Linked DNA regions of Homo sapiens. The protein of the gene in region 6 interacts with the protein of the main gene of each other region in a pairwise test. Each region holds a gene or a part of one and is shown on either strand. Other genes may lie near its edges.

Region 1 (3,500 bases), about 13 Mb from region 6:
GGAATTGTGATGCTTTTCCAGACATTCACATTGCATCGCAAAAACGTGAGACAAAACACTGTGGGTGAGGCTGAAGTTTAACATCCTCCCTCAGTGCCCTTTCCTCCTCTTGTCCCCAGGGATGATCACTCCAGGAGATGCGTGTTAACATATATAAGCACCTTAACGTGTGCATCTGTTTTGTGTGTGTGCTTCATGGCTAGCTGAGAAATCTGGGTGTCTTTGAATTAAGGAAATGGTGTGGCGGTGCTCATGAACCCCCCCGCCCCCCCATGCTCATGGTTTATCCTCCATCTTGAAGGGCCGGTCTCTCTTCAGGGGTTGAAGGGTCTGGTGAGAGCAGAGGTTTCTGTGGTTTTGCCAGTGAGGCTCCGTTCCTAGTGGCTACCTCAGGCAAATAGAGGGTTGAGGGAGCCTGCTGGAGGCTGGCAGAGATACCCGCCCCTACTCACGCCTTTACAGTCTCTTCAGTACTTGGCTTTGAAGGGAGTGAGGCTGAGAGATTCAAGTGGTTTGGGATTCAAGTCTGGATGGGGCAAGCTCCTCCCCTGACCTGCTGAAGGAGAGGAGGGCCTCTTTCCCCTTCAGTCTGCAGATTCTCCGAGGCCCTTCTCTTCCCCTGGGAAGGGTGCTTGCTTCTGCATTATTCACCGGCTTGGGAAGGGATGGGTTGAGTTTCCCTGCTTCCTGGGGATATCAGATCCTGCCTGGCACCTGACCCCTAGTCCTGATGGTGGGGCTGTGGGTGCCAGCTAGTTGCAGAGGTCTTTCCTGAGGGGTCGCTGGGTCCCTTCAGGAAAACATCATTGGGTCTCTTGATTCCCCAGCCTCTAGCCCTGCCCCTCTCAGGGACGACCCTGGGGTCAGGCCCCTCAGCCCTCGAGGGGGACCAGGAGCCAGCCTCCTCTGTCTTCTCTGGCTCCCCAGCTCCTCCTGAGCATCCTCAGGTATCTTACACCCCGGGGGCATTTCCAGGCCCCGTCCCCCTGGTCCCCTCATGGTCCCTGGACTCGCTTGTGGACCCAGGAGGCCTGTTAATTCCCTTCCTCCATTGAATCCCTTCCCTTTGGGGGTGGCCTCCCTGGGGCTTGGGACATAGCCACCAGCGCGCAGGGTGGGCTGGGCCCGCATCCTTACTCCGCTTATCCCGTGCCCCTCCTCTCACCCTTGCCCAGAGCGGGACAAGGAGAACCGGCATCGGAAGCGCAGCCACAGCCGCTCTCGGAGCCGGGACCGCAAACGCCGGAGCCGGAGCCGCGACCGGCGCAACCGGGACCAGCGGAGCGCCTCCCGGGACAGGCGACGACGCAGGTACTAGGGCTCAGGGATCCCCTGGGCCAGCCTGGGAGTCGGGGGGTCGGTGTTGGCCGGCCTGTGGGTGGCCTGTGTGTGTCTGTGTCTGGGTCCGGGCCCTGTGTGGCTCGTTCGTTCTTTGTGTGGATCTGGGGGAGGGATCTACTGCTTGGTCTGTCTTGGATTCCGATTTTTTCCCCCGTTTCTGGGGTTTCTTTCATTTTCTGTCTTGGTGGTTGCTGGTGGGTTGCTGGGGGCAATAGGCTCTTTATCTGGAGCCTGGGAATTGATTCTGTGTTTTCCTTCACAAGGGGTTGTTCTCTGTCTCTGACTCTGAGGGCCTGTTCCTTCTTTTCGACTCTCTGTGGCTCTCTGTGGGACTCTCTTCGAGGGGGTTGGTCTCTGCCTCCAGTTTCTTTCTTCCCTGCCTCCCAGGAGAAGGGAGCTCTTGGGACCGAGGCAGTATCCACAGCCTGGGCTGACTTTTTGGCCCAGGGGTGTCGGTTTCCACCGCCTCTTCCCTTCTAGGCTCCCCTTTCTGTTCTCTGCCTCCTTAGGTGAGGAAGGGCAGGATAGGCGGAAGTCCTCCTGCCTCCTCCCGGCTCAGTTTCTCCAGCTAGAGACTGGTCCTTCCTGGCCCCTGGCCCCTTTCTCCTTTCCTCACTTCCTCTTTCCTGGGGGTGGGAGTGTTTGGGGGGAAATGGCAGGGCCGAGGGTGGCCTGCTTGCTGCTTGTTGACCTCGGCCCTGCTCCCACCCTGGGGCTCAGTGCCCTTGGGGGGGTGTGGCATGTGGGGAAGACGAGGGTCCCCAGTCACCCCTCCCCATACCTTTCCCTCCCACCCCCCAGCAAACCTTTGACCAGAGGCGCTAAAGAGGAGCACGGTGGACTGATGTGAGCTTCTCTTCCTGCCCCTTCCTCCCTGATGTCCACTCCCTTCACCTTCCTCACGCCCGTGCACCCTGTCCCGCCCATTTCCAGCCCTGGCCCAAGCACTGGGAAGAGTCCACTTACCTTGAAACCAGCACCCCTTTCCCAGGCCCTGCCCCAGACCCTCTCCTTCCCTGGAGAGAGTGGAGCTTACATGGTTGCGGGGAGGGTGAAAGGGTGCCTGGGAGGGGGCTCGCAGGCCCACTGTTGGTCAGACTGAGGTTGCCCTGCCCCGCTCTCCCCTCCCACCTCCCCCAGTCGTTCCCCCCGCCACGAGAAGAAGAAGAAGGTCCGTAAATACTGGGACGTGCCACCCCCAGGCTTTGAGCACATCACCCCAATGCAGTACAAGGCCATGCAAGGTAGGCCCCTGGCCAGGCTGCTCCCAGAGCGGGAGGGTACAGGGGTTGGGATTCTCCGTCAGTCATTCCCCTGCGTGTGTGCTTGGAGGGGGTCAAAGACACAGGTAGAGGGTTGCACACCCCTGGGGGTTCTGGTCTCTGCGCTTTTGAAGCCTCCCTAGAGGAGGAAATGACCAGAGACACCCGTGGTTGACAGGGGAATGAGGCCTCCATCTGGACGCCATTAGGAAGTGAGGCTTCTGAGGAGCAGCAGTTACTGGGTGGGGGCCCCGAGGGTGGAAAGAGGGTTCTGGAAGGTGCTAAGACCGAGAGCCTGTAGGAGCTTTCTGCTGAGGAGGGGAACTCCCAGTGTGTGGTGAGGGGTGGTCACTGAGCATTCCCCTGATGGGGTTTTATCCGGCTTTTATTCCCTTTGAAGCTGCGGGTCAGATTCCAGCCACTGCTCTTCTCCCCACCATGACCCCTGACGGTCTGGCTGTGACCCCAACGCCGGTGCCCGTGGTCGGGAGCCAGATGACCAGACAAGCCCGGCGCCTCTACGTGGGCAACATCCCCTTTGGCATCACTGAGGTACTGCCCTCCCCTGCCCCCTACCCTCTCCCTTGTCCCTCTACCCCGTTCCTCCCCTTCCCTCCATTCCCTTTCCCCAACCTGCACGGGTCAGACTCTGCTCCTGCAAGACCCCCCGGCCCCCTCCCAGACGGACCGATGGAGTTGAGCCAGCCAGGGGCCGGGCTGGGGGTGGCCCTCCCTCCCTCCTCTTCCCCTCTCCCGTCTCCCCTCCCCCCAACCTCCTCCAGCAACCCAGGGATCAAGCACACACATAATGTACCCACGTGTTGTACCTACGTGTCGGAGAGAGACAGAGAGGGAGACTTGGACACACACACACACACACACACACACACACACACA
Region 2 (3,500 bases), on a different chromosome or scaffold from region 6:
TTGGCAGTTTTCAAATGACTGACCAAATTGCCTGTGACTTAGCACGTTGTATAATTATAAAGTTCTTTCCAAGGCATGCTGAACTCACAATTTCTCTAAGAATTAGTTTCTTTTCTTTTCTTTTCTTTTCTTTCTTTTTTTTTTTTTTTTGAGATGGAGTTTCGCTGTTGTTGCCCAGGCTGGAGTGCAATGGCTGGATCTTAGCTGAGTGCAATGGCTGGATCTTAGCTCACTGCAACCTCTGCCTCCCGGGTTCAAGTGATTCTCCTGCCTCAGCCTTCCGAGCAGCTGGGATTACAGGCATACGCCACCATCGCCGGCTAATTTTGTAATTTTAGTAGAGACAGGGTTTCTCCATGTTGGTCAGCCTGGTCTTGAACTCCCGACCTCAGGTGATCCGCCTGCCTCAGCCTCCCAAAGTGCTGGGATTACAGGCGTGAGCCACCGCATCCAGCCAAGAATTAGTTTCTTAGGCAGTGGGCTCCCAGGACCACAAGAAGGGCAGGTTTGAGCTATTGCCTGGCACAGAGAAGCAACACTCTGCCCGTCTAACACCTGGGGTGTGCAAGGCAGCAGGAGGTAAAAATGCTCCCACCCTGGTGTTCCTTCCAGAATCATCTGGCAGTAGCGGTTAATCATATAAGCTCTGGCTTTGTCACTTCTTAGCTGTGGACCTTGAGCAAGTGGCTCACCCCTCTGAGCCTCGGTTTCCTTATCTGTAAGATGATAATGATACCTACTTGATAGCATCGTGAGGATAAATGAGTGGAGGGTAGAACATGGTATGTGCCCAATAACCATAGATAGTATTCAGGTTAATAGGGAGACACAAACATTATTAACTCTGCTGCAGGACAGTGAATGTGAAACCAGAATTCCAAACAAAGACGTGACCGATTTGAGTGGGGAAAGTGTCCTGATGTGGATTTGAAGGCTGGGGAGAAGGGAGGCGGGTGGGCCTGAGGGCAGTGTGGGCTGAGTCCCGCAGCTGGAGCATAGAAAGGATGAAGCTCTGGTGGCTGAAGATAGGAAACAGGGCTTGCTGGGGTCAGGGAGAGAGTTGGCGGTAAAGAGCTGGAAATGTAACCAGGACAGGGTGAGATGGTGAAGGGGCCAAGCCAAGAAATATGGGTGCTCCTGCTGGGCAGAGGAGAAGCTCTGGATGATGTAAGAAGGAAAACCTCAATCGGGTTCCTCTTTTTTTTTTTTTTTTTTGAGACAGAGTCTCTCTCTGTCGCCTGGAGCTGGAGTACAGTTGCGCAATCTCAGCTCACTGCAAACTCTGCCTCCCAGGTTCAAGTGATTCTCCTGCCTCAGCCTCCCAAGTAGCTGGGATTACAGGCACCTACCACAAAGCCTGGCTGATTTTTGTATTTTTAATAGAGACGAAGTTTCGCCATGTTGTCCAGGCTGGTCTTGAACTCCTGACCTCAGGTGATCTGCCCACCTTGGCCTCCCAAAGTGCTGGGATTACAGGTGTGAGCCACCGCGCCCTGCCATTTGGGTCCCTCTTAACGGCTGTGTTCATGGATCATTATCTCTTCTGAGCCTCAGTTCCTTGATCTGTAAAGTGGAGGACTCAAAGAATCAGCCTCCTAGAAGAGTTGCATAGATTAAATGAGATAGTGGGTGTAAAGTGTTTAGCTTTCTGTGCATGTGTAAACTGCCCAAGAGGAAGTTAGCTGACAGTGACATACAGCAAGTTTTAATGCCCAACATTTTGTTGGCTGTAAGGACATGGGATTCACTAACTTGATCGTGTTGATGGGTGGATCTGGAAAAGGAGTCCGAGGTGCAGATTAGGAAATGTGGCTGGCCCTTCCCAGCCTACCTGCCTTTTGACGGTGTGCCTCAGGGCAGATTGTGAAATTGTCTCTTTACTACTGAGAATTCTGTAATTTGCCAAACAAATAAGGGTGAGAAGATGATGTACATTCCAGAGAGTGTGCATGGCAGGTCCCTTTTGTGCTGGATCCATCTGCAGGTCTTCAGCTGCGGGGTAGAGAAACCCAGGAAATACTAATCACCATTGTCCTTTGGAGGCTTATTAGAAAGTAAGTAACTCTGAAGTTGGCTGATAGTATTCATACGTGATTCTCTGGCTGGTAGGACCCAGGTCCAAGTATGGAGTACCAAGTGAATTTGTCCTCTCACCCTTTCCTATTCTGTTCTTTCTTTTTGTCCTCTCCCATGGGTTCTTCAAAATAAATTAAGTTTAGATTCTTTCAAAAGTATGCTTGGCCTTTTACCCGGCTCTCTATCGAGTCTTGTAGTGGTGCAGATGTGTGTCTACGGAGTAGTCCCCATACCCCCATCACTTTGTATTATTTACAATCTCAAAGGCATAGTCATACGTATCTGCCACCCAGCCCCAACAACCATTAACCCATGGCCAGTCCTGCCCAGCCACACTCCCACCCCTTGCCCCATGCATGATTCTGAAGCAAATCTAGGACATCATACCATTTCAACCATAAATAGTTCAGAATGTGCGTTTAGTGGATAAAGACCAAAATTCATGATCACACCCACATTACCAATTGTGTTCACATTACTAATTGTCTCATAAATTAATACTTTTCCCCTCCAGTTTGCTTAATCAGGTCCACATAATGTCCACACATTGTAATTGATTGGCATGTCTTTTGAGCCTCTTTTAATTTCATACATTTTCCCTCCATCAAGTTAATTGTTGAAGAAATGGGTGATTTGTTTTGTAGAGTCCCCAACAGTCTGGATTTTGCTGAGCGCATCACCATGTGCCTAATGTTTCTCAGTCCCCTAGGTTTTCTCTAAACGGATAGTTGGATCTGCAGCTGCAGCATCCAGTATCACATGTGACTATCACAGCCATAGTCAATTAAGAATTAACAATTAGACCAGGCGCCATAGCTCATGCCTGTAATCCCAGCACTTTGGGAGGCCGAGGCGGGCGGATCACCTGAGGTCAGGAGTTCAAGACCAGCCTGGCCAACATGTTGAAACCCCGACTCTATTAAAAAAAAATACAAAAAAAATTAGTAGGGCTTGGTGGCATGCACCTGTAATTCAGGCTACTCAGGATGCTGAGGCAGGAGAATCGCTTGAACCCAGGAGGTGGAGATTGCAGTGAGCCAAGATTGCACCACTGCACTCCAGCCTGGACAACAGAGCGAGACCCTGTCTCAAAATAACAGTTAAGTTCTTCAGTCCTACTAGCGACATTTCAAATGCTAGTAGCCATGTGTGACCAGAGGCTAATGTACTGGACAGTACAGAATATAATTTTTCTGTCACCACAAAAAGTTCTATTGGATAATGCAACTCTCCCTGCTTGGTCAGCTCTATTTTATTTCAGCTAGAATATGTCACACTGTGGGGCATCTGTCTTCATCAGAGGCACTGAATATTTGGTTATCTCTCTTTTTCTGATGTTAGCAGCTGTTGATGCTCAGGACCTAAATATTTTGGCTTATTAGGTGTTCTAAAACAGCAATAATCTAATTCTGTCCTCTGTTTAT
Region 3 (2,347 bases), on a different chromosome or scaffold from region 6:
GTCACGCAGCTTGCACACACATGTCTTTGAACCAACCCAAGCAAGGCAGTCTGGCTCCAGAGTCTGTAATCTCAACATCCACATTCTATATTCCTACTAATTTGTAAGAGAATTGCTGTTTCTCTACATACCTGCCAACTGACCAGCTTCTTGAATATTTACCAACCTGAAAGGTAGAAAGTAATCCTTATTGAGGTTGAGTGTATTTTTACATTTTCTGGCTACACTGATTAACCTGTGAACTACTTGTTCAAATCGTTCGCCTGTTTCCCTTTGGGTTGCTTGCCTTTTCGTGATTTGTAGCTCCTGCCTTCATAACCATCTTGCTTGTTTCAGTGACTGACCCTGAGGCTTGTTACATTGGCACAGAGCCATGGAAACCCAAAGAAGCTGTGGAGGAGAATGGTGTTATTACTGACAAGGCAGACATATTTGCCTTTGGCCTTACTTTGTGGGAAATGATGACTTTATCGATTCCACACATTAATCTTTCAAATGATGATGATGATGAAGGTATGAATACAATTTCTAACATAAATCCCAATCTCTTCATTTCACACTAAAGATTATATAATTTTATCTTTCTAAGATATGTATTAGTACTGATGACTGATTTGGTACCACCAAGGTTTAATCTCACACAAATGAGACATAGATTGAGAATAGGGAGAAAAATTGAGGCTATCCAGAGAAGCAAAACATTATCTTAAAAACTCCCCTTTCCTGAGAAAATGATTGATTGGAAAACTATCACAGGAAGGGTAAAAGTAGGGGTCGATAACCTATAAATCCAAGACTAAAGCAAATCTACTTGATGGCAGGACAATTGAAGACATTTCCATTCTGTCTGTGGCAGAATGGAAAGCATACTGGACCATAAATTCTTGTTTCAGGAGAAGGGTGAGCTATTAAACTTTTCCATGACATAAAGTGATTTTGTTTATTGTTTCAATCTCTAACTCCTTCAAGATAAAACTTTTGATGAAAGTGATTTTGATGATGAAGCATACTATGCAGCGTTGGGAACTAGGCCACCTATTAATATGGAAGAACTGGATGAATCATACCAGAAAGTAATTGAACTCTTCTCTGTATGCACTAATGAAGACCCTAAAGATCGTCCTTCTGCTGCACACATTGTTGAAGCTCTGGAAACAGATGTCTAGTGATCATCTCAGCTGAAGTGTGGCTTGCGTAAATAACTGTTTATTCCAAAATATTTACATAGTTACTATCAGTAGTTATTAGACTCTAAAATTGGCATATTTGAGGACCATAGTTTCTTGTTAACATATGGATAACTATTTCTAATATGAAATATGCTTATATTGGCTATAAGCACTTGGAATTGTACTGGGTTTTCTGTAAAGTTTTAGAAACTAGCTACATAAGTACTTTGATACTGCTCATGCTGACTTAAAACACTAGCAGTAAAACGCTGTAAACTGTAACATTAAATTGAATGACCATTACTTTTATTAATGATCTTTCTTAAATATTCTATATTTTAATGGATCTACTGACATTAGCACTTTGTACAGTACAAAATAAAGTCTACATTTGTTTAAAACACTGAACCTTTTGCTGATGTGTTTATCAAATGATAACTGGAAGCTGAGGAGAATATGCCTCAAAAAGAGTAGCTCCTTGGATACTTCAGACTCTGGTTACAGATTGTCTTGATCTCTTGGATCTCCTCAGATCTTTGGTTTTTGCTTTAATTTATTAAATGTATTTTCCATACTGAGTTTAAAATTTATTAATTTGTACCTTAAGCATTTCCCAGCTGTGTAAAAACAATAAAACTCAAATAGGATGATAAAGAATAAAGGACACTTTGGGTACCAGAAGGTGTCTCAGCATTATTTTATACTTCATTGATTTGAGTGTTGTCATTAAACTTGAGTAAATGTGAGGTTTCTTTCCCTCTCTTGGCCTTATTTTGCTAATCTATAAAGTGTTTTGGATCAGTAGTTTCTGTAAGCCACAGTCCCCTGGGAATTTTCCAAATTACTGAATTGCCAATGTAGGTGGTATACCTACATTTGGGTGTAGACAGAATTTTAAAAATTACCGACACAGGGCGTTCTCAGAAACATTAGGAACAACTGCACTCTGAACTTTAAAAATGCCTAGAAATCACTGAAGGCCTTTTGGTATAAGATTGTACCAAGCAATAGGACACAACATTAATTTGCATATATTCCATCAAAATAATGTGACAAGTAAATTGGAAGTTGTCTTAATTTGTAGAAAAACGTATGTATAATTTTGCATCCTGATACTCAATAGGGTCTCTTATCCTCACTCTGACATGTGTCACTCTTCTTTGCCAAGCCAACAGAGC
Region 4 (3,500 bases), on a different chromosome or scaffold from region 6:
ATACTTTTAGGCACATTTCTTTTATTACGTGTGACCTTGACCCAGGCTTGACACAGCCAGTTTCCAAACTCCTAGAATCCACCTAGTATCCATAGCTTTTAAGGTCTGCTTATAGCCTGCTACTATTTCTATAAAAGAATATATGTATATGCATTTTATATATCAGTGTATGTATTACATGTACATGAGAATCTTAAGGTTTTTCTGTTCTTGATAAATAATTCTTCGAGAACGTATAAGGCAAGTTTAAAGCCTGGATTTTGTGCCATATGGAAGAATGATAGTGTAATTTAAGAACCAATAACTTGCATTGGTGGTGGCTGCTTTGTAAATAATTAGGTTTCAATGCTAAGGTTTCTTATTTCTCTGAATTTTGGAATGTGAGTCTAATATTTCATAGTATAGCAGGCAGAGGTTTTTCATACCTGGCATTTTTTTTTTTTTATTTAGAAACCTTGGCATGATTATTTTGTCTAGCAAGTTTTTTGTTCCTGTTGTTGTTACTTAGAAAATAGGTTATGTCTGCCAAAAATGGAAGGTCTCACATTTCTTATTCAGAGATCAATTTGGAGATTTTATGATGTGGAGAAAATATAGAGACAGGTAACAAGTCTAGAGCATTCTGATTAAAACAAAAAGCAACCTGCTTTTGTCAGAGCTGAAATTACCTTACGTGTCCAAAGAAATCACTATGGGTTGCCTTGAGGCGAACTTGAAGAAAGGTGGAAATTTGGAGCCCCTTTTGGAGAGAAAAGTAGATGACCTTTGGGTAGACGTCTTTTTTTTGTTTGTTGAGTAAAGACAGGGTTTAGCCAGGCTGGATTCGAGCTCCTGGCCTCAAGTGATCCGCCTGCCTCGTGTGTAAATGTTTTAAACTAGAAGTTGACTTATTGGCATGTTTTGTGGTTGTGCAGCTGTGGAGAGATTAAAACTACATTCTGGATAATTTGATCCGAAGATCAATCCCACTTTACTGTTTAAAGGCCCTGGATCTAGATATTCTCAAATGCCAATCTTCATCTCTGTTAGTTTACCCATTAAGGTAGCTGTTCAACTCTATGAACAGTAGATAGGTATATAAGAACTGTAACATTCATACAAGATGAATGAATAAAGAAATGGAGGCTCGGGTAGTCACTTTTTCCTGTTGTGTTTCGTATTTAGAATTCACCTTAATTACTTTTCTTCTGGTCATTTAACTTCTCAGTTATTCTGGTACTCTGGAATAGTCCTCATGTTCAGTCTGCTAAATTTTAACTGAAATAACTCATGTTCATTTCAGAAGTTAAGGGTTTTTCAAAACTTTAAACAGGTTTTATTTTTTAGAGGTAAGACTGGCCTTCTGTTATATTAATGCTGAAAAGATATCTTCAGGATTGTTTTTACTCTTATTTACTCAAACCATCTAGAAATTGTATGCCTTCTTTGAGTTGAAGAGAAGAACCTTTGACATACACATAAACAATATTGCACACACAGAGTAGGCAACTTTCCATTAATTTGCAAAGCTGCAAATTAAGTTGCAAAGTTGCAACTTAAAAAAAAAGTTAAGTTGCAAAGTGCTACATTCATTTTTTTCAAACTGAAATAATAAACATGAGTATTAGTTCCTGTTTTTGCTACCCTTTTTTAACCGTGATTGGTGTATAAAACAAATGGAAAGCTACTATGCTAAAATAGTGTTAATTCATTCAACAGGTAATTGTTGAGCATCCACTATGTGTCTGGCGCTATTCTAGGCACTGGATTCTACTGGTAATCAAATAAATGAAGAAGTCAAAACAGTGTAATAATGTTTGATGAAGTTGGAGCTGAGAAAGCTAAGTTTAGATGAAATGATAAGGGAAGACCTTTTGGTGGAGGTGACATTTGAGATTACACCTGAATATGCAGATAGTTAATTTGGACAAGGAACATTCCACACAAAAGTTAAAAAGGAAAAATTACTTCAAACTTGAAAGCTTAGTTTACCACTGGCAGAGGATTATCTTCATGATTGTGGAGTTTCCAAGAGTGTTAGTAGAAATCTTAAGGGATGGAGATCTAGTTCCTTTTTAACTTGGCTTTATGTTTTCATTGTTTCTCTGTTTTGAACCAGTGTTGTACTTTGATTATAAAGTAAAAGAATAGTCTACCTACACGTAATTTTTAGTTATCCCAGTGTTCATTTTAACTTATTTCACTTTCTAACCTCTGACTAGACATGTTATGAAGCCTAATTTTTTTTTCTCCCATCTGTTATGTCCTTAGTGAGGAATAATAGTTAAAACTGCCTCTCAAGATAAAACATAAAAATGGAGACCAGAATACCTTAATGTTTATTAAAGTATGTTTTAAATGTTTAATGGAATGATAATAAATACTGTAGAATCAAGTAGATGTGGGCAGTGCTTCAGTTATTAATGTTAGATAGGTTATTTATTGCAGAACTTCTCAGAAACTTTGATTTTTGAGTAATGTGCAGTGTAAATACCAAAATTTTGCAGCGATTACCTAACCTATTTGACTTATAAGACCCCCTTTTTAAAGAGCATTTCGTAAAACTGGAGTTTACAGAAAACATACTTGGAAATACTGCATGCTTGAAAATTTGATTGTATAAAACTCTGGATCTCAACCTTTTATTCAAAATCATTTTACTCTTTTCAGTTGCTCTTATGAAATAGTGATGTTTGACAGTGATTACTGTGAGTCTCTAACTTGTGTAGTCAGGAAAAAAGAAGTCAGTCATCAGATAAATTCATAACAGATCTCAGCATTTACTTAGATTATTTGGAGCTTAACTGTTAAGTATTTACCTTACCTAGTTTATCATAATCAGCATACTATCTGTAATTATTACTAAAGTATTAGTTTATTTTGATTATTTTTCCTCCTGTCTGGATGACATCCTCAGTTTTTTTCTTATATTGATACAGTCTAATTTATAGCTTATGCCTCTGTGCTCCATGTTTTAAAATTAGAATTAATTTGTTATTAACAGTTTTCATAGATTTCAACAGTTTTATTTTTCATGTATTGAAATATCTTTGATTATCGTATCCTCTCAAATCAGTCTCTTGTATCCCATTCATCTTGGCCTCTTGTCAACTTGCAACCTCAATATAACATTGACTGTTTTTACTTCCTTTACAGATGTGTCTGTTTTATAGTATACTTTTTTGTTGGTTTTTCTTTCTTTCTAGTATATTTAAAGAATATTTTTATTATTTCTAAAAATACAGAAGACACATTTTTATGCTTTTTTTCCCATTCCAGTGAGAAAAATCTAACTTGTAATTCTTACCATTTGAGTTTGTGTACAAAAGGAAGAATCGAGAAGATACTGAGAACATTGTCTTCACAATTCTTTCTTGAAAGATTTTGAATCTCCTTGCTAATGACCTAGTTTTCCCAGTCAAAATAAAATCTTTTAGGTTTTGAATAGAAAAAGAGTTCTGGAAGGAAAATCTGTAGGTGAGAAAGGGCGTGTATAAGCCCAGTCTTAACACTCAGATAGG
Region 5 (3,149 bases), on a different chromosome or scaffold from region 6:
GAGGGGAAGTTTGAGTGCAAAGGGAACATGCCTTAGTAATATCTCTGAGATGGGCAACCATGGTGGAAGAATGTCTAGAAGTTTTTAAAAGCTGGAGTAGGGGCAGTAACCGGCATGGAAATGGTTGTGCACATATGAAAGTACAGAAGGTTTTTTAAACTTGGGCAAGACACTTTATCAGTGAGATCGAACTATTTTTTCCTGAATGGCACCAGCCTGGGCAAGTGGGTTTTTTTCCTGCTGGGTATATACAGGGTGTATGCTGGGAAAAAAAATGAGCAATAACGATGGGGTTTTAAGGGCTGCCTGCCAGGCTGCCGAATTTGTTGAAAGGTTTTTCTCGGTTTTGGCATCTGTAGCCTTTCGGTGTCCCTTGCAATGGATAATGGTGGCCTTTGGTGGTGGTTTATCCACCCCCAACAGCTTATGTGTAAGTTTGCCATTTCTTATGGGGGTTCCTTTTGTAGTTAGGAAACCCTGTTCCTGCCAGATGAAGGCATGAGACTGTAGGACATGGTATGCATATTTGGAATGGGTGTAAATGTTGACCCTCTTTCCCTTTGCTAGGGTGAGGGCCCTGGTTAGGGCAACTAGCTTTGCCTGTTGAGAGGTAGCATGGGGTGTGAGAGCATTCGATTCTAGGAGTTTATCTTCAGCACTGATGGAATAGCCAGCTGCTGGACATGGCTGCCTAAAAGAGGTTCCATTAACTAACCGTGTATGTGTTCCCTGCAAAGGGGCATCTGAAATGTGTTGGAAGGGGGAGGAGAGGGAGTCTAAGAGGTCCAGACAGGAGTGAGAGAGCTTAGAGTCGGAAGTGTTTACAGGGAGAAGGGTGGCTGGGTAGAGAATTTTATGTCTCTGGAAGGTGATTAGAGGGTTACCTATGAATAAGGCATGCACCTGCTGTAAGCAGGATGGTGGGAGGGATAGAAGGGATTGGTGGTTTATGAGGTCCTGTAGATAATGGGAAGATGCAATAGTAATGTGTTGGTAGAGAGGGAGTTTCCGTGCATCTAAGGCCAGCAATGTGGCCATACCCAAGATTTTTAGTCAGAGTGACCAGCCTCGGATGACAGAGTCCAGTTGTTTTGAGAGGCGTGCAATGGCTTCTGGGGCGTTGCCATATGTTTGGCAGAGTAGTCCAAGGGCAAGGCGCTGGTCAGAATGTACATAGAAAGTAACAGGCTTGGTGAGGTTTGGCAGTCCCAGTGCCAGGGCCATTAAAAGGGCATTTTTAAGTTTTTAAGTTGGAGTTGATGGGGCAAGCTGGGTTCAGGGGTTTTAGGATGGGCCCATGTGAGGCTACGTATAGTGGCTTGGCCAGCAAGTCAAAGTTAGGAATTCACAGCCAGAAGTATCCCACAAGGCCCAAGAAGGAGGGGAGGTCCTTTTTTTTTATGTGGGGAAGGGGCATGTCCCAAATTGGCTCCTTTCATTGGGTTGGGATGGCTCGAGAATTAGGGGTTAGAACAAACCCAAGGTAAGTAACTTTGATTTGGGTACCTGAGATTTTGTGGGTTAGGCCCAATATACTTGATTATGAAGGAAGTTTAAAACCTGAGTGGTGTGTTGAATGGACAGGTTAAGAAAGGGGCTACAGAGAAGGAGGTCATTGACATACTGGAGGAGGGTACTAGGAGCAAGGGGAAGTTCAGCTAGGTCCTTGATGAGGGCCTGTCTGAACAGGTGGGGCCTATCCCGGAACCCCTCTAAGAGTACAGTCTAGGTGTAAGTCCATGTGTAAGTCCTGTAAGAGTACAGGACATGTGAGTATTAGGATTTGACCAAGTCAAAGCAAAAAGACTTTGGTAAGCCAGATTTAAGGGAATAGTGAAATAGTTGTCTTTTAGTTCAATACAAAGGAGTGTGTGGTAGATGGGGCAATACGGTAGAGTAGAGTATATTGGTTGAGGACCACTAGATGGATTGGTACCACGGCCTGGTTAACGACTTGGAGATCCTAGACAAAGGGGTAAGTCCCGTCTGTCTTTTGGAAAGCCAGAATAGGGGTGTTGTGGGGAGAGTTAACAGGCTTGAGAATATGAGCTTGTAAAAGTTTACAGATAATAGGTTTGAGACCCCCTAAGCAAGGCTGGATTAAGGGGATATTGAGACTGATGAAGGAAAATGGAGGGGTTTTGAAGGGTTATTTTAACTGGGATGTGATGTGTGGCTATTGTGGGTTTAGAAACATTCCAAGCTTTAGAATTAACAGAAGGTAACAGGGTGGATAATGAGGATGAGTGGGGGGAGAGGGAAGCGTTTGGGTGTCAGAGTAAAATAAAAGGGGTAGAATTGTAGGAGCCACATTGCATGGAGTTCTGGAATTTACTTAATATGTCCCATCCCAAGATAGGGGTAGGGGACTGAGGGATAACCAGGAAAGAGTGGGTGAAGGGGGCTGCTGAATAGGTTGTATAATAAAGGACCAGTCTGTGCCTAGAGGGGATTTTATTGATTCTCACAATAGAGATCGAAGAACAGAAAAAGGGTCTAGAATATTCTGGTCAAACTGAGTAACTAGTTGTCCTATTGAGTATCCAATAGGAAAGACATGGGCTTACTAGAGACTGACAGAATTACCCTGGGTTCCGAGGTGGTGATGGCAGTAGGGGCGGTGGACTCCAGGCCCCACCTGTCTTCAGGTACAGGTGGTGAAGCAGGATGAAGAGTTTCAGTGAGCACAGTCTGACTTCCAGTGTTGCTTGATACCACAGATGGGGCAAGATTTCCAGAGTGTCCTGGGATTAGGCTAGGCTTTTGCCCAGTGTCCCTGTTAGACGAACTTGTAACAGGCTCCTGGAGTTGACTGTTGCCAAGTTGAGGAATTCTGTAGGCCTTGGGAACCCTGTTGAGTGGCAGCTACCAGCATTTGGTATTTAGCCTGGTCCTTCTTTAGGTTTGGATTTTTTAGTTCTTCCTCTCTAATCTTATAGATCTTGAAGGCCACTTTGATTAAGTCTCTTTGGAAGGTTTGAGGGCCACCCTCCAGTTTTTTAAGTTTTTTTCAAATGTCTGGGTCTGACTGGGAGATAAAGTATAAATGGAGGTAGTTTTTGCCCTTATTGGTATTAGGGCTTAAGGTGGCATATTTAGTTGTGACTTTTGAAAGGCAGGAGAGGAAACGAGCAGGGACAGCTTTATTT
Region 6 (2,695 bases):
AGCGCTTCACACAGAGCTCCAACCTGCAGCAGCACCGGCGGTTGCACTTGCGGCCAGTCGCCTTTGCCCGCGCCCCCCGCCTCCCCATCACTGGTCTCTACAACAAGAGTCCCTACTACTGCGGGACTTGTGGCCGCTGGTTCCGCGCCATGGCGGGCTTGCGACTGCATCAGCGGGTCCATGCCCGAGCTCGGACTTTGACGCTACAGCCTCCCAGATCACCATCTCCTGCCCCACCCCCACCTCCAGAGCCTCAACAGACTATCATGTGCACAGAGCTGGGGGAGACCATCGCCATCATTGAGACATCCCAGCCACTGGCGCTTGAGGACACCCTGCAGCTGTGCCAGGCTGCACTGGGGGCCAGTGAAGCAGGCGGGCTCTTGCAGTTGGACACGGCCTTCGTGTGACGCAGCTGAAAAGCAACAACAAAAGGGTTTGGTTGCAACAGCCAGTGTGGGTACCTCTGGGGAGAGAGGACCTCCTCTGACAAACTGGTCTGGTACCCACCATGTGCCAGGATCCACCCTGGCCTCTTTTTACCCACTGACTCCCCAGAACAACCCTTCCAGGCTTCTCTTGTCATCTTTCTCTGCCTGAGGGGAAACTGAAGCTCTGAAATGCGATGTGATCTGTACCAGGTCACCCAGCTATGCTGCAAAGTGGGTTGGCCAAGGCCCTTTGCACTGCATCACCCTGGTGCCCAGCAACATCAGGTAACCTTCACTGAGCACCAAGCTTATGCCAGGTCTGTGCTGGCCACTCTCATATACCTCTTCAGATCCTCTGCTTGTACCCCCAGCCCTTGCCTTCCCTGGATTTTGGGCACCCAGGACTTTGCTCTGCCTGGTGGAGGGTACTTGATTTCTCTGGGCTTCCTTCATCTCAATTCTGACAGTGTGGAAGGAAATCTGTAGGTACCCAGGTCCTCAGCTCCAGACTGGGTGATGCTGGAGACCCAGGAGCAAGTCAGCACAGGCTCTGCCCACAGGAGGCATGCACAATCTGGTAGGAGAAACGCACAAGTACAGATAGCTTGCTCTCTGAGTGTGTCTCATTGATTCATTCAGCCTGTGTGTCCTAAAGCCTCCCTTCTCCCATACTGGGTGATGCTGGGGGCAGAGATGAGTCAGGCCTAAGGCTTCTCTGGGCTGTGATGGGGATGTGCAGGGACAGTGGGATCCCAGGAAACAGACCTCCATGGTGGGAGATCAGGAGTTAAGGACTTCCTAGAGAAGGTAGTCCCTGAAGGAAAAGTAGGAATCTGGCAGTGAAAGAGGAAAAGAACATTCCAGGCAGACAGCACTGCAAGAGGGTGAGCTCTTGGTGTATTTGGAGACCATCCAGTTATTCATCTGACTGCCTACCTGAGGCAAGCACCACACTTACCACTGTATGTGTACTATGATCCCAACAGGCTTGTGACATAGATTTCATATTATCCCTGTTGTATAGATTTTTAAAACTGGTGGCTGGGCGTGGTGGCTCACGCCTGTAATCCCAGCACTTTGGGAGGCCGAGGCGGGCAGATCACGAGGTCAGGAGATCGAGACCATCCTGGCTAACACGGTGAAACCCCGTCTCTACTAAAAATACAAAAAATTAGCCAGGAGTGGTGGCGGGCGCCTGTGGTGGCCAGCTACTCAGGAGGCTGAGGCAGGAGAATGGCGTGAACCCGGGAGGCGGAGCTTGCAGTGAGCCGAGATCGCGCCACTGCACTCCAGCCTGGGCGACAGAGTGAGACTCCCTCTCAAAAGAAAATAAAAATAAAAATAAACTGGCCAGGTGCGGTGGCTCACGCTTGCAATCCCAGTGCTTTGGGAGACTGAGGCAGGAGGATCACTTAAGGCCAGGAGTTCGAGACCAGCCTGGGCAACAGCAAGACCTCATCTCTACAAAACTTAAAAGTTAGCCAGGCCTGGTGGCACATGCCTGTAATCCGAGTGCTTTGGGAGGCTGAGGCAGGAGGATCACTCGAGCTCAAGAATTCAAGACCTGGGCAAGAGAGAGAGACTTTGTCTCTATTAAAAATAAAAATGATTGGCCGAGCATGGTGGTGCACACCAGTATTCCCAGCTACTCTGGAGGCTGAGGCGGAGGCAGGATTGCTTGATATGAGGGAGATTGAGGCTGCAGTGAGCTGTGTTCACACCACTGCACTCCAGTCTGGGCAACAGTGCAAGACCCTGTCACTTAAAAAAAAAAAAAAGGAAAAAAAAACTAAGGACAGAGATTTGCCCAAGGTTTCACAGCTAGGCAGAGATGTGAGATTTGAGTACGGGAGGCCCCTGCGGCCCACATTTGTAACCCATACTATTCTGAGTGATTAAGACCTGAAACTTGTGCAGGGGTAGGGGATCAGAGGAAGATTCATTCTAACTAGAGGAAAAGTAAACCAGTGTCAGAGCTATTGGGATTTGAAGGGGCTTCGAAACATCAAAGGTCTTGAGAGCAGGAAGATTCCCACCTTTTTCAGAGGTTACCTAGGATAATAGTCTTTCTCTCCATTGATTGATTGATTGATTGAGATGGAGTCTTGCTCTGTTGCCCAGGCTGGAGCACAGTGGTGCAGTCTCAGCTCACTGCAACCTCCACCTTCCAGGCTCAAGCGATTCTCCTGCCTCAGTCTCCCTAATAGCTGGGATTACAGGCCCCCACCACTGCACCCAGCTAATTTTTGTATTTTAGTAGAGAC
Region 7 (3,500 bases), about 38 Mb from region 6:
AGGCCTCCATCATCCCCTCACGGTGCCCAGATCTTGCCTTTTGTAGCACTTCAGAATTACTGTATTTCACCAACTCTCAACCCCATACCTTTTCATGCTCTAGCATATCTGAAATCACGCACCTAACGAGGAAAGAGACATCTGGGTCAGTGAAATTCGGTTCATGCCCATGTGTTGTTGGCCTGTCTACTCCTCCCCCTCATTCATTCATTTATTCATTCAACACTCATTTATTGGGCACCTGCTGTGTGCCAGGGTCTGTGCCGAGCGCCAGGAACAAAGTCCCTGGCCTCATGGAGCCCACAGTCTAATGGGAAGTGGAGAATAGTGGTAGTCAGGCAGGTGCACGGGCCCCCGAAGTCAGGCAGGAGAGAGCCCCTGGGGCAGTGGCGCAGGAGGGAGGGCTATAGGTAGCTGGGGTACGGTGACATCAGGCAAAATACTGGTGGCGCTGAGGTCTGAGGATGAAGGGTGTCGCCGGCCATGAGACTGTAGGAGCAGAGGCCTTGAGCTGGGACTGAGCTGGGGGTGTTTGCAGGATCAGACAGGAGGCGGGCGTGCTGGGCTGGGGAGCAGAGCCCGGAGTAGGAGGGGAAGAGGGGGGTGGGGCAGCATTTTTCTGTGTGGCATCTTTCCTCCTGGAGGGTGGGGTGCCCCGTAAGCACAAAGATTGCTTCTGGGAGTGCATGACAGGCAGGCCTCACCTACTCAGGGGGCTTCCCAAGCAGGCGACCCTTGGACTGAGCCCCAGGAAGATATGAATGAGAACACGAAGTTCTCAGGTAGAGGAAATTTGGACACAGGGTGGGGCAGCCTGCCTCTTGAAGGAGGGAGCTCCCCGTTGCTGGAGGCAAGCAAGCAGTGATCTTGCAGGATGCCGCAGGGACAGCCTGCCAGTGGGAGCCAGCGTCCCAAGACAGCTCACATCCCTACATGCTGCCCCGCAGGTGTAAGACGTGCGGAGAATACATCTACAAGGGGAAGAAATTCAATGCTCGGAAGGAGACGGTGCAGAACGAGGTCTACCTGGGCCTGCCCATCTTCCGCTTTTACATCAAGTGCACGCGCTGCCTGGCAGAGATCACCTTCAAGGTAGGTGAGACGGCCGGCCAGGCCGGTCCCTCTCCCCCAGCACACCTCAGATCAGGGCGGGCCCTGGGGTTCCTTAACTCCAATCCTCTCCATCCAGGGAATCTCATTTCAGTTTATCCCCAAGAAACAGACAACAGTTTGGGGGAGATGTTCATGGCAGCATTCTAAATAAAGGCAAAAAGACAGAAGCAACCTAGATAGATAATAATAAGGGATGAGAAGAACAAATTAGCATGCAGGCTGGGCATGGCTCACACCTGTACTCCCAGCACTTTGGGCGGCCAAGGCGGGCAGATCACCTGAGGTCAGAAGTTCAAGACCACCCTAGCCAACATGGCGAAATGCCATGTCTACTAAAAATACAAAAATTACTGGGCATGGTGGCGGACTATAATCCCAGTTACTCGAGAGGCTAAGGCAGGAGAATCACTTGAAGCTGGGAGGCAGAGGTTGCAGTGAGCGAAGATTGCACCGCTATACTCCAGTCTGGGTGACAGAGCAAGACTCCAACTAAAAAAAAAAAAAAAAAAAGCCAGGCACAGTGGCTCATGCCTGTAATTCCAGCAGGTTGGGAGGCCAAGGCAGGAAAGAGAGCCCCTGAGGTCAGGAGTTTGAGACCAGCCTGGCCAACATGGTGAAACCCCGTCTCTACTAAAAATACAAAAGTGAGCCAGGCGTGGTGGCTCATGCCTGTAATCTCAGGTACTTGGGAGACCAAAGCAGGAGAATCGCTTGAACCCGAGAGGGAGAGGTTGCAGTGAGCCAACATTGCGCCATTGCACTCCAGCCTGAGCAACGAAATGAAACTCTGTCTCAAAAAGAAAAAAAAAAGTAGCGTGCAATGGAATATTACACAGCCAATAAAAATTGCAATTTGACTTTTATTTGTTACCTTGAGAATTTAAGGAAAGACTGAAGATAACTTAAAATTTTCTCTTCCTATGCTTAAGTACTCTTTGAATACTTTTTTGCCATAAGCTTTTTTTCTTTGATTAAAAAAACATTTTGGGCTGGGCGCAGTGGCTCACAGCTATAATCAGCACTTTGGGAGGCCAAGGCAAGTGGATCAGTTGAGGTCAGGAGTTCGAGACCAGCCTGGACAACATGATGAAACCCCAACTCTACTAAAAAAAAATACAAAAATAGGCCGGGCGCAGTGGCTCACGCCTCTAATCCCAGTACTTTGGGAGGCTGAGGCAGGCGGATCATGAGGTCAGGAGATCGAGACCATCCTGGCTAACACAGTGAAACCCCGTCTCTACTAAAAAAAAAGCAGAAAAAAATTAGCCAGGCGTGGTGGCGGGTGCCTGTAGTCCCAGCTACTCGGGAGGCTGAGACAAGAGAATGGCGTGAACCCAGGAGGCGGAGCTTGCAGTGAGCTGAGATCGCGCCACTGCACTCCAGCCTGGGCGACAGAGCGAGACTCCGTCTCAAAAATAAATAAATAAATTAATAATAATAATAATATTTTGGCTGGGTGCAGTGGCTCACGCCTGTAATCCCAACACTTTGAGAGGTCAAGGGAGAAGGATCGCTTAAATCCAGGAATTCAAGACCAGCTTGGGCAACATAGTGAGATCCCGTCAGTACAAAAAAATATAAAAATTAGCTGGGCATGATGGCATGCGCCTATAGTCCTAGCTACTTGGGAGGCTGAGGCAGGAGAATCAATTGAGTCTGGGAGGCCAAGGCTGCAGTGAGCCATGATTTCACTGCTATACTCCAGCCTGAGTGACAGAGTGAGACCCTGTCTGCAAAAAAACAAACAAAAACTTTTTTTGAAATACCTGAAGATTTACAGAAAAGTTCCAAAGATAGTACAGATAATTCTCACCTACCCCCTCACCAACTTCCCCGAATATTAGCATCTTATATAACCAGGGTACATCTGTCACAGTAAGATACTAAGGGTGGGGCCAGGCATGGTGGCTTACTCCCAGCGCTTTGAGAAGGCAAGGCAGGAGGATTGCTGGGGACCAGAAGTTCAAGACTAGCCTGGGCAACATAGTGAGACCCTGTCCGTGTCTACACACACACACACACACACACACACACACACACACACAAATTTTAATTAAAAAAAGAAACTAAAGGTGGAATGTTACCATTAACATTGTAGGCTGTGGCTGGGTGCAGTGGCTCATGCCTGTAATCCCGGCACTTTGGAGGCCAAAGCAGGAGGATCGGTTGAGTCCAAGAGTTAGAGACCAGCCTGGGCAACATGGCGAAACCCTGTCTCTACCAAAAAGAAATTTAAAAATTAGCCAGGTGTGATGGTGCATACCTGTAGTCCCAGCTACTCGGCAGGCTAAGGTGAGAGGATTGCTTGAACCCGGGAGGCTGAGGTTGCAGTGAGCCATGATCCTGCCGCTGCACTCCGGCCTGGGCAACAGCACGAGACCCTGTCC

Evidence for each region.
Region 1: the proteins of ZNF526 (region 6) and U2AF2 interact in binary tests that used the Homo sapiens proteins (3 or more experiments, as listed by UniProt).
Region 2: the proteins of ZNF526 (region 6) and OVOL2 interact in binary tests that used the Homo sapiens proteins (3 or more experiments, as listed by UniProt).
Region 3: the proteins of ZNF526 (region 6) and PBK interact in binary tests that used the Homo sapiens proteins (3 or more experiments, as listed by UniProt).
Region 4: the proteins of ZNF526 (region 6) and ZFP91 interact in binary tests that used the Homo sapiens proteins (3 or more experiments, as listed by UniProt).
Region 5: the proteins of ZNF526 (region 6) and SPANXN2 interact in binary tests that used the Homo sapiens proteins (3 or more experiments, as listed by UniProt).
Region 7: the proteins of ZNF526 (region 6) and YJU2 interact in binary tests that used the Homo sapiens proteins (3 or more experiments, as listed by UniProt).

What each region holds. Positions count from the first base shown.
Region 1 is NC_000019.10:55,658,035-55,661,534, forward strand, and holds part of U2AF2 (splicing factor U2AF 65 kDa subunit), read left to right. Parts: intron 1-827; exon of another isoform or gene 828-947; intron 948-1,175; coding exon 1,176-1,311; intron 1,312-2,142; coding exon 2,143-2,187; intron 2,188-2,481; coding exon 2,482-2,585; intron 2,586-3,003; coding exon 3,004-3,155; intron 3,156-3,500. UniProt on the Homo sapiens protein: Plays a role in pre-mRNA splicing and 3'-end processing. By recruiting PRPF19 and the PRP19C/Prp19 complex/NTC/Nineteen complex to the RNA polymerase II C-terminal domain (CTD), and thereby pre-mRNA, may couple transcription to splicing.
Region 2 is NC_000020.11:18,051,417-18,054,916, reverse strand, and holds part of OVOL2 (transcription factor Ovo-like 2), read left to right. Parts: intron 1-3,500. UniProt on the Homo sapiens protein: Zinc-finger transcription repressor factor. Plays a critical role in maintaining the identity of epithelial lineages by suppressing epithelial-to mesenchymal transition (EMT) mainly through the repression of ZEB1, an EMT inducer.
Region 3 is NC_000008.11:27,809,124-27,811,470, reverse strand, and holds the end of PBK (lymphokine-activated killer T-cell-originated protein kinase), read left to right. Parts: exon of another isoform or gene 1-303; coding exon of another isoform or gene 304-336; coding exon 337-513; exon of another isoform or gene 514-969; coding exon 970-1,166; 3' UTR 1,167-1,847; downstream 1,848-2,347. UniProt on the Homo sapiens protein: Phosphorylates MAP kinase p38. Seems to be active only in mitosis. May also play a role in the activation of lymphoid cells.
Region 4 is NC_000011.10:58,585,563-58,589,062, forward strand, and holds part of ZFP91 (E3 ubiquitin-protein ligase ZFP91), read left to right. Parts: intron 1-3,500. UniProt on the Homo sapiens protein: Atypical E3 ubiquitin-protein ligase that mediates 'Lys-63'-linked ubiquitination of MAP3K14/NIK, leading to stabilize and activate MAP3K14/NIK. It thereby acts as an activator of the non-canonical NF-kappa-B2/NFKB2 pathway.
Region 5 is NC_000023.11:143,714,604-143,717,752, reverse strand, and holds part of SPANXN2 (sperm protein associated with the nucleus on the X chromosome N2), read left to right. Parts: intron 1-3,149.
Region 6 is NC_000019.10:42,226,007-42,228,701, forward strand, and holds the end of ZNF526 (zinc finger protein 526), read left to right. Parts: coding exon 1-410; 3' UTR 411-2,195; downstream 2,196-2,695. UniProt on the Homo sapiens protein: May be involved in transcriptional regulation.
Region 7 is NC_000019.10:4,250,080-4,253,579, forward strand, and holds part of YJU2 (splicing factor YJU2), read left to right. Parts: intron 1-947; coding exon 948-1,092; intron 1,093-3,500.